Homo sapiens: one gene and its partner. The protein of the gene in region 2 interacts with the protein of the main gene of each other region in a biochemical or structural test. Each region holds a gene or a part of one and is shown on either strand. Other genes may lie near its edges.

Region 1 (3,500 bases), on a different chromosome or scaffold from region 2:
CACCCAGCATGTGATGGGTGCTCCCCGCCTATGGGAAGACAGGGAGAAAGGGAAGAAAGAAGAAAGGGATGGATGAATGAATTAATGAATTAAAGACAGATATCAGTGGTCCCTGCCCTAGGGGATATTACCATTCAGAAACTAGACATGCATCAAGTCATTTGAAACAATAGAAGACAGAATTTTATTTAATAAGAAACAAAGGAGCCAGACAGATCTCCTGGTTGGACAGGGATGGGGAGTCTGGGTGGCTTCAGCATCTCACTGCCTACCCTGCCATTGCCTCAGAAGAAATGGGGGTTGGGGGTGAGGAGGAAAGCAGACAGGGAAGACTTCCTGGAAGAGTGACTCTGGAAAGCTGAAGGATTCAGAGGAAGCTGTTGGGGCCACTGACTGAGCTCTTAGTGTACAGTCTCCAAAGCCAAGGGCATTGAGCTGAATGAAACAGCAGCAGCAGAAGGGCAAAAGGGCTTCGGGTTGGATTTAAAAATATTTTTTATTATAATTTTTTAGAGACGAGGGTCTCACTATGTTGCCCAGGCTGGTCTCCAACTCCTGGCCTCAAGAGACCCTCCTGGCCAGGCACAGTGGCTCACGCCTGTAAACCAGCACTTTGGGAGGCCGAGGCGGGTGGATCCCCTGAGGTCAGGAGTTCGAGACCAGCCTAGCCAACACGGTATGAAACACTGTCTCTACTAAAAATACAAAAAATGAGGTGGGGGTGGTGGCAGGTGCCTGTAATCCCAGCTACTCGGGAGGCTGAGGCAGGAGAATTACTTGAACCCAGAAGGCGAAGGTTGCAGTGAGGCGAGATGGGGCCATTGCACTCCAGCCTGGGCAACAAGAGTGAAACTCCATCTCAAAAAAAAAAAAAAAAAAAAAAAAAGGAGACCCTCCTGCCTCGGCTTACCAAAGTGTTGGGATTACAGACATAAGCCAGGTCGCCTGGCCCAAGCTAGATATTGAGGACTGCCAGATGGCAACAGTAGACAAGACACCCTAGAATGGCCCATCTAGAAGGAAGTAGATACCTTCTCTGTAGGGATTCAACAAGGGGGCAAAGTGATGGGCATCTTGGGTGAGGAACCCAGCCCGCGGAATGGGAAAGGGCTGGGACACTGGCTTTACAGCTGGGTTGGGAAAGGGATCTGATCCTTGAGTCAGCCCCTGTAAAATGGGGATACAGCAGGGCACGACGTCTGTTGGTCGCCTGGCACTGGGTCGGCCACCGAGGCCGCGCCTTGGCCTCTTTGTCCCCTCTGGCCACCGGCCCCAGGGAGCCCGCTCGGGAAGCAGCGCGGCCCCAGGAGGAAGGCGGCGCGGCCGAGGCCAGAGCCGGCGGCTACTGCGACCTTCCGGCTGGCGGGCGCGTTTCATGTTCCTGCCTCACCCTGGGCTGCACGGACTCAGATCGGGAAGGGGGAGGATCCATGGTAAAGGCCACGCCCCCTCTGGGACCTCGATTCCCCTTCTGGGCGGCCGAGGGATGGGCTGCAAGGAGTCAAATCCTCTTGGCCCTGGTGGTTGGATTTGGCCCCCTCCCTCCTAGGACTTTGGCATGCTGGCTTGGTCATGTCTGACTGTCTCTGTGCTGTCCCTGTCACCAGTCCGGAAGCTTCTCCCCTGTCCCCCACGCCCAACTTCGCTCAAGCCTGCCTCCCTCCCGCAGTGGGCATGTTTCTTTCTATGCCTCTCTCCCCTTTGCTATCTTTGCTCTCCCCCGGGCTCTCCCCTTCCTACCCTCTGCTTTCTCTGTTGTAAACAACAGCTGCTCACATCTGGGGGCCACCTCCCAGACATTCCTCATGGAGGAGGCAGTGCTGGCAAGCCACCCTGCCTCCTCCAGCCCTGACCTCTGGCAGTGGGTCCCAGCTCCCTGACCTCCTCTCTCTGGTGGATATAGCTAACACTTTTAAAAGTTGAGGCTTTTGGTTGTTTGTTTTTAATTGTTTTTCCCAAATCCACAGCTGACCTGAAAACTTGAGTTTTTTAAAAATACTTTTTTCTCCAAAATAGGCCAAATCCATTTAGAGCAACTCTTGCAAACTCAACAAAGTGTGAAGAACCAACTAAATGTCTCTCCTAATCCCACTTCCCAGCCATAACCACTGTTAACACGTTAGGTTTTCTCCTGGCCCTTTTCCTCTGTCTTTAAATATTTTCAAATATATGTCGTGTAACTTTTTCAAAGACAATGAAAAGATTATCATATAAAATATTGAGTTCAGTTGTCCCACTGGACAGAGAGGCAAACTGAGCCTATGCAGAGGATCAGAGTTGGCCAGGGCTGCACATCAACCTGACTCCCACCTCTTGGTCTAGACTCTTTACTGTAGTCCTGGTGCCCTCTGGGTTCTCTCTGGTAGAGACCATTGGCTTCACCAGGCAGGACCCTGGTGAATAATGTCAAGATGAAAGGGAGAAGCAGGGCTGGGCCGCTGGGGTGGGAGACCCTGACCCACAGAGATGGACAGTAGGGACCTCCCATGGCCAGAGCCTCAGCCTGGGGTTGGAGGGAACACACTCACGTAGGCCAAGTGCAGTGGGATTCCCAGGGCCTGGAGATGCAGGAAGACACTGCTGTTTACACTGAGGACCAGAAGCACCTCTCGGGGCCAGGTGCCATTTTGCTTGGATGCCTGGAGAGTCAGCTCCAGCTGTGACGGGCCCTGGGGGACACAGAGGAGAGACACACACAGTCCAGTCAGATTTGTATAGGTTGTGCCACCCAGACAGGCAGTGATGATTTGGATGCTTCCACTCCACTCTCCCTGCCTGCTCTGTCCACCCTCACCTCCCAGTGCCCAGGGTAGTGCCTGTCCCTCTGGCCATCCTCAGGGAATTCACAATAAACAAATGAAGGAGGTAAGCCCGGCAAATCTGAAGAGAGAAAAAAAATTAGGCTGGGCACGGTGGCTCACGTCTGTAATCCCAATACTTTGGGAGGCTGAGGTGGGCGGATCACCTGAGGTCAGGAGTTGGAGACCAGCCTGACCAACATGGTGAAACCCCATCTGTACTAAAAATACAAAAATTAGCCAGGCGTGGTGGTGGGTGCCTATAATCTCAGCCACTGGGGAGGCTGAGACACAAGAATTGCTTGAACCCTGGGGGCAGAGGTGGCATTGAGCTGAGATGGCACCACTGCATTCTAGCCTGGGCAACAGAGTGAGACTCCATCTAAAAAAAAAAAAAAAAAAAAGGCCGGGCATGGTGGTTCACACCTGTAATCCCAGCACTCTGGGAGGCTGAGGCAGGTGGATCACCTGAGGTCAGGAGTTCGAGACTAGTCTGTCCAACATGGTGAAACCCCGTCTTTACTAAAAATACAAAAAATTAGCCAGGTGGGGTGGTGGTGGATGCCTGTAATTCCAACTACTTGGGAGGCTGAGGCAGGAGAATCTCTTGAACCCAGGAGGTAGAGGTTGCAGTGAGCTGAGATTGCGCTATTGCACTCCAGCCTGGGCAACAAGAATGACGCTCCGTCTCAAAAAAAAAAA
Region 2 (4,022 bases):
TTCTCCTCCCTCAGCCTCCCAAGTAGCTGGGAGTACAGGTGCCTGCCACCACGCCCAGCTAATTTTTTGTATTTTTAGTAGAGACAGGGTTTCACCCTGTTGGCCAGGATTGTCTCGATCTCTTGACCTCCTGATCCGCCCGCCTTGGTCTTCCAAAGTGCTGTTACAGGAGTGAGCCCCTGTGCCCGGCCTCTTTTTAAAATTTTAATGCAGTAAGCAAGCCTGCTGATCTGGCTGCTACTTGAGTTTTTGATTCTTTAGAATTTCTTGGAAATGTTTTTTTCTAGGACAGTAATTGAACATAAAATATTAATGATTGTGAACATTAATAATGTGTTAATACTAATTATGAACATTAATGATTAGTGATATAAAGTGTAGAGACATTAATGACTGAAAGATAACTCCTCAGAGAAGTTAATATAAAGGTAGGTGCTGATTGGCAGCCAATTTAGTTGTGAGGTGGCTGTTAGAATCTAGTGTTCAAGTACTTCTGAAAAAAAAATATAAATCTAGTTTATAAGCCCCTCCTGAGGACTTGAACCATGACTGGTCATTAAATGTGTATAGGTGTATGTGAATTACTATACTCTGTCATACCCTACCCTCAAGTGATTTTGTTATTTTATTTTTATTTTTTGAGATGAATCTCTGTTGCCCAGGCTGGAGTGCCCAGGCTGGAGTGCGGTAGGATGATCTTGGCTTCCTGCAACCTCCACCTCCCGGGTTCAAGTGATCCTCCCGCTTCAGCCTCCTAAGTAGCTGTGATTACAAGTGTGCGCCACCACCCCAGGCAATTTTTTTTTCTTTGAGAAGTCTCGCTCTTGTCCGCCAGGCTGGAGTGCGACGATGTGATCTCGGTTCACTGCAACCTCCGCCTCCTGGGTTCAAGCGATTCTCCTGCCTCGGCCCCCCGCCCAGAGTAGCTGGGGTTACAGGCACCTGCCACCACGCCCAACTAATTTTTGTATTTTTAGTAGAGACAGGTTTTACCTTGTTGGTCAGGTTGGTCTAGAACTCCTGACCTCAGGTGATCCAGCCGCCTCGGCCTCCCAGAGTGCTGGGATTACAGGTGTGAGCCACCATGCCGGGCCTCCCCTAAAGTCATAAAGGAGAAAATAATGTAATTATTACATAGGTTATTAACTAGGCTAATACATACTGAAAGATTGCCGTGTTAATAATGGAGATTCAACAAACTGCACAAAGTAACTTTTTTTTCTGTCTTCTCAGTGTTTTAAGTGGTAGATAGCAGCAAAAAGGTCAAGTTACAGTTAAGTCTTGAGACTTTGATAAGCCACAGACTGAACTCTACCTACATGTTAAGTAGTTAAGTTGGCAGTATTGATGTTGACTTAATTGCTATTAAAACTATATCTTTTGCCCTTTGAAAAACCCAGGGCATTTGGATTTGCCCTAAATTTAAGCACATCTGGTTTTTAGTTTAAATCCTTTTTATATTTAGATGATTTACTTGTGAGAAGACTTAACTGTTTTTAAGTATAAGTGAGCATTTCTAATGCACTAAAATAGGATTGCTTTACAAATCAGTTTTGAATTCCTCTTTAGAAACCCTTGTGGAGTAAAGTGAGGTACTATTTACAATTAGATTTGTTTTGACTTCAGTCCATTTAGCAACTTACATTTGAGCTTTATTTCAATCTTGACCTATTCTTATCGGAGCCTTCTGGACCAAAATGCTTTTTTTATGGATTTTAAAATCAAATATCCTGGCAAAAATGACTATGGATATGTAGTATTGCTTAAATTAAAACAGAGAATTGAAATAATTTTATTGTACTTTAAAAAACAAAGTTGTTTATTTCCTAATAATTTGAGCCATTAAAGAAAAAGCTAAGCATCTGCTCATTGAGAATGCATGCTCTTAATGTTGATGAAATATGATCGTGTTATGTAATGCAACTAAAAGGCTTGGTGGGTTTTTAAATTCAGGCTTATAAAGAGTACATGAATGTTTAGCAAAGAGAAGAAATACAGCTGTGATAATCAAGTGTAAAATCCATTTGCAAATCTTACAGGTAATATTGAATTGAATGATTAACTGCCTAGTTTTCTTTATCAGTTCATTGGTGCTGAACTGGGCCCTAGGCTATGCAAGATATTTCAAAACCAAGTCTTAATTTTAACTGAAGAGAGACCTCATTTGATATTATTAGATGTAATCAGTTGTGATATAGAATAAAGGATGTTTTAATAGATGACATTTAAAATTGTTATATTCTTTGTGAATATAATAGGTTTAGACTCTAGTGACTTTGGTAGGTGAAAGATTAACTAATGATCACTTGCGTAAAATGCAAAAATAGCCTGACAGCTTTTTAACCACTAAGTGACCAAAACTGATAGCCAGAAGTGTAGTGTTTTTAATACTTTTTCCTGAAGGCTTTCTGCACTTCATCTTTGCAGTTAGTAGTATTCTTTAAAAAGAATGCTGTTGTTGTGAGGGTAACATTTCTTTCTAGAACGTTGCAGTGTGTCTGTGCTTAGAATTTTCATTGCAGCTGTTGTGCAGAACTTATGTGTTCAGTGTTTTAAAATAAAAACATTCTTAACTATTTTATAAGTAAAATCTTTCCTTGAGGCTATTACCTGAAGCCTTCTTTGACATTTAAGATCTCTTGATGTGTTTGCTTTTCCATGGGTTGCAAGAACTATTCTTCTGCAATGCAGAGGGCAAGATTATTTTGCATTCACCTTGTCATAGAAAAAAGCTGTAATGCTTAATTTGTTTCCCTTTGCTTGACTGTGTGTGTTTGTATGTGTAGCACTGGGAAGTATTTAAAGCTGTGAATTCCCCCAAGTGATAATGGGTACCTTTTTCTAGGGTGAGAGTCGAAGCCTAAGTATTACATTGAGAATGTATTGTTTTAACGTGGCCAAATTAGTGTACTCTAGGATACTACCCATGTGGCAGATATTTGAGAATGCATTTTGTGTGACTTACAGATTAAGCATACAATTTGCCAAAATTTTATGTAATTAATTTCCTAGTTTACATTTAGGGCTAGATGAAGACTAGTACTGTTTCATCTTTTAGAAAAACTAACACTTTTCCTTTAGTAAAAGTGTTAATTTTTGCAATACTTTTGCAAAAGGTTAAACTTATAGCAATTTTGTCATAGCTATAATCTTACACTGTTATAAAATTTAGAGGATTTTTAATTTTTATTTATTATCATTATTTGAGACAGTTTTGCTCTCGTTGCCCAGGCTGGAGTGTAATGGCATGACCTCGGCTCACTACAACCTCCCCCTCCCAGGTTCAAGCTATTCTCCTGCCTTAGCCTCCTGAGTAGCTGGGATTACAGGCGCCCGCCACCACGCCCGGCTAATTTTTTATATTTTTAGTAGAGATGGGATTTCACCATGTTGGCCAGGCTGGTCTCAAAACGCCTGACCTGAAGTGATCCACCCACTTCAGCCTCCAAAGTGTTGGGATTATAGGCATGAGCCACCATGTCCGGCCTAAGAGTTTTTTTTTAGAGCTTAAACCACCTTAGAATTTAGTCCAGTTCATTTTATAGAAGACAAAATTGAGATGTTTATATGGAATGACTTAGGTTGGAATGGGTGATTTCCAAAATTCTCGCAGTTTTTTTTGAAACAGAATCTTGCTCTGTCGCCCAGGACTGGAGTGCAGTGGTGCAATCTCAGCTCACTGCAACCTCTGCCTCCTGGGTTCAAGTGATTCTCATGCCTCAGCCTCCCGAGTAGCTGGGATTACAGGTGCATGCCACCACGCCCAGCTAATTTTTGTATTTTTAGTAGAGACGGGGTTTTGCCATGTTGACCAGGCTGGTCTCAAACTCCTGACCTCAAGTGATCTGCACGCCTTGGCCTCCCAAAGTGCTGGGATTACAGGCGTGAGCCACCACACCCGGCCTCTTAAATAATGTTTTATGGGAGTAATTAGAATTTGTAATGTTCCACGGCCTAAGTGTAGTTTTCATGTTTAATTATGTAGAATCAAGTAAAGCCTTTTGCTTCAAATCCTTAGAGTT

What was found.
Region 1: the proteins of CAPRIN1 (region 2) and ENG interact on a protein array, tested with the Homo sapiens proteins (one large-scale study listed by IntAct).

Annotation. Positions count from the first base shown.
Region 1 is NC_000009.12:127,827,159-127,830,658, forward strand, and holds part of ENG (endoglin isoform 1 precursor), read right to left. Parts: intron 2,670-3,500; coding exon 2,529-2,669; intron 1-2,528. UniProt on the Homo sapiens protein: Vascular endothelium glycoprotein that plays an important role in the regulation of angiogenesis. Required for normal structure and integrity of adult vasculature. Regulates the migration of vascular endothelial cells.
Region 2 is NC_000011.10:34,054,533-34,058,554, forward strand, and holds part of CAPRIN1 (caprin-1), read left to right. Parts: intron 1-4,022. UniProt on the Homo sapiens protein: mRNA-binding protein that acts as a regulator of mRNAs transport, translation and/or stability, and which is involved in neurogenesis, synaptic plasticity in neurons and cell proliferation and migration in multiple cell types.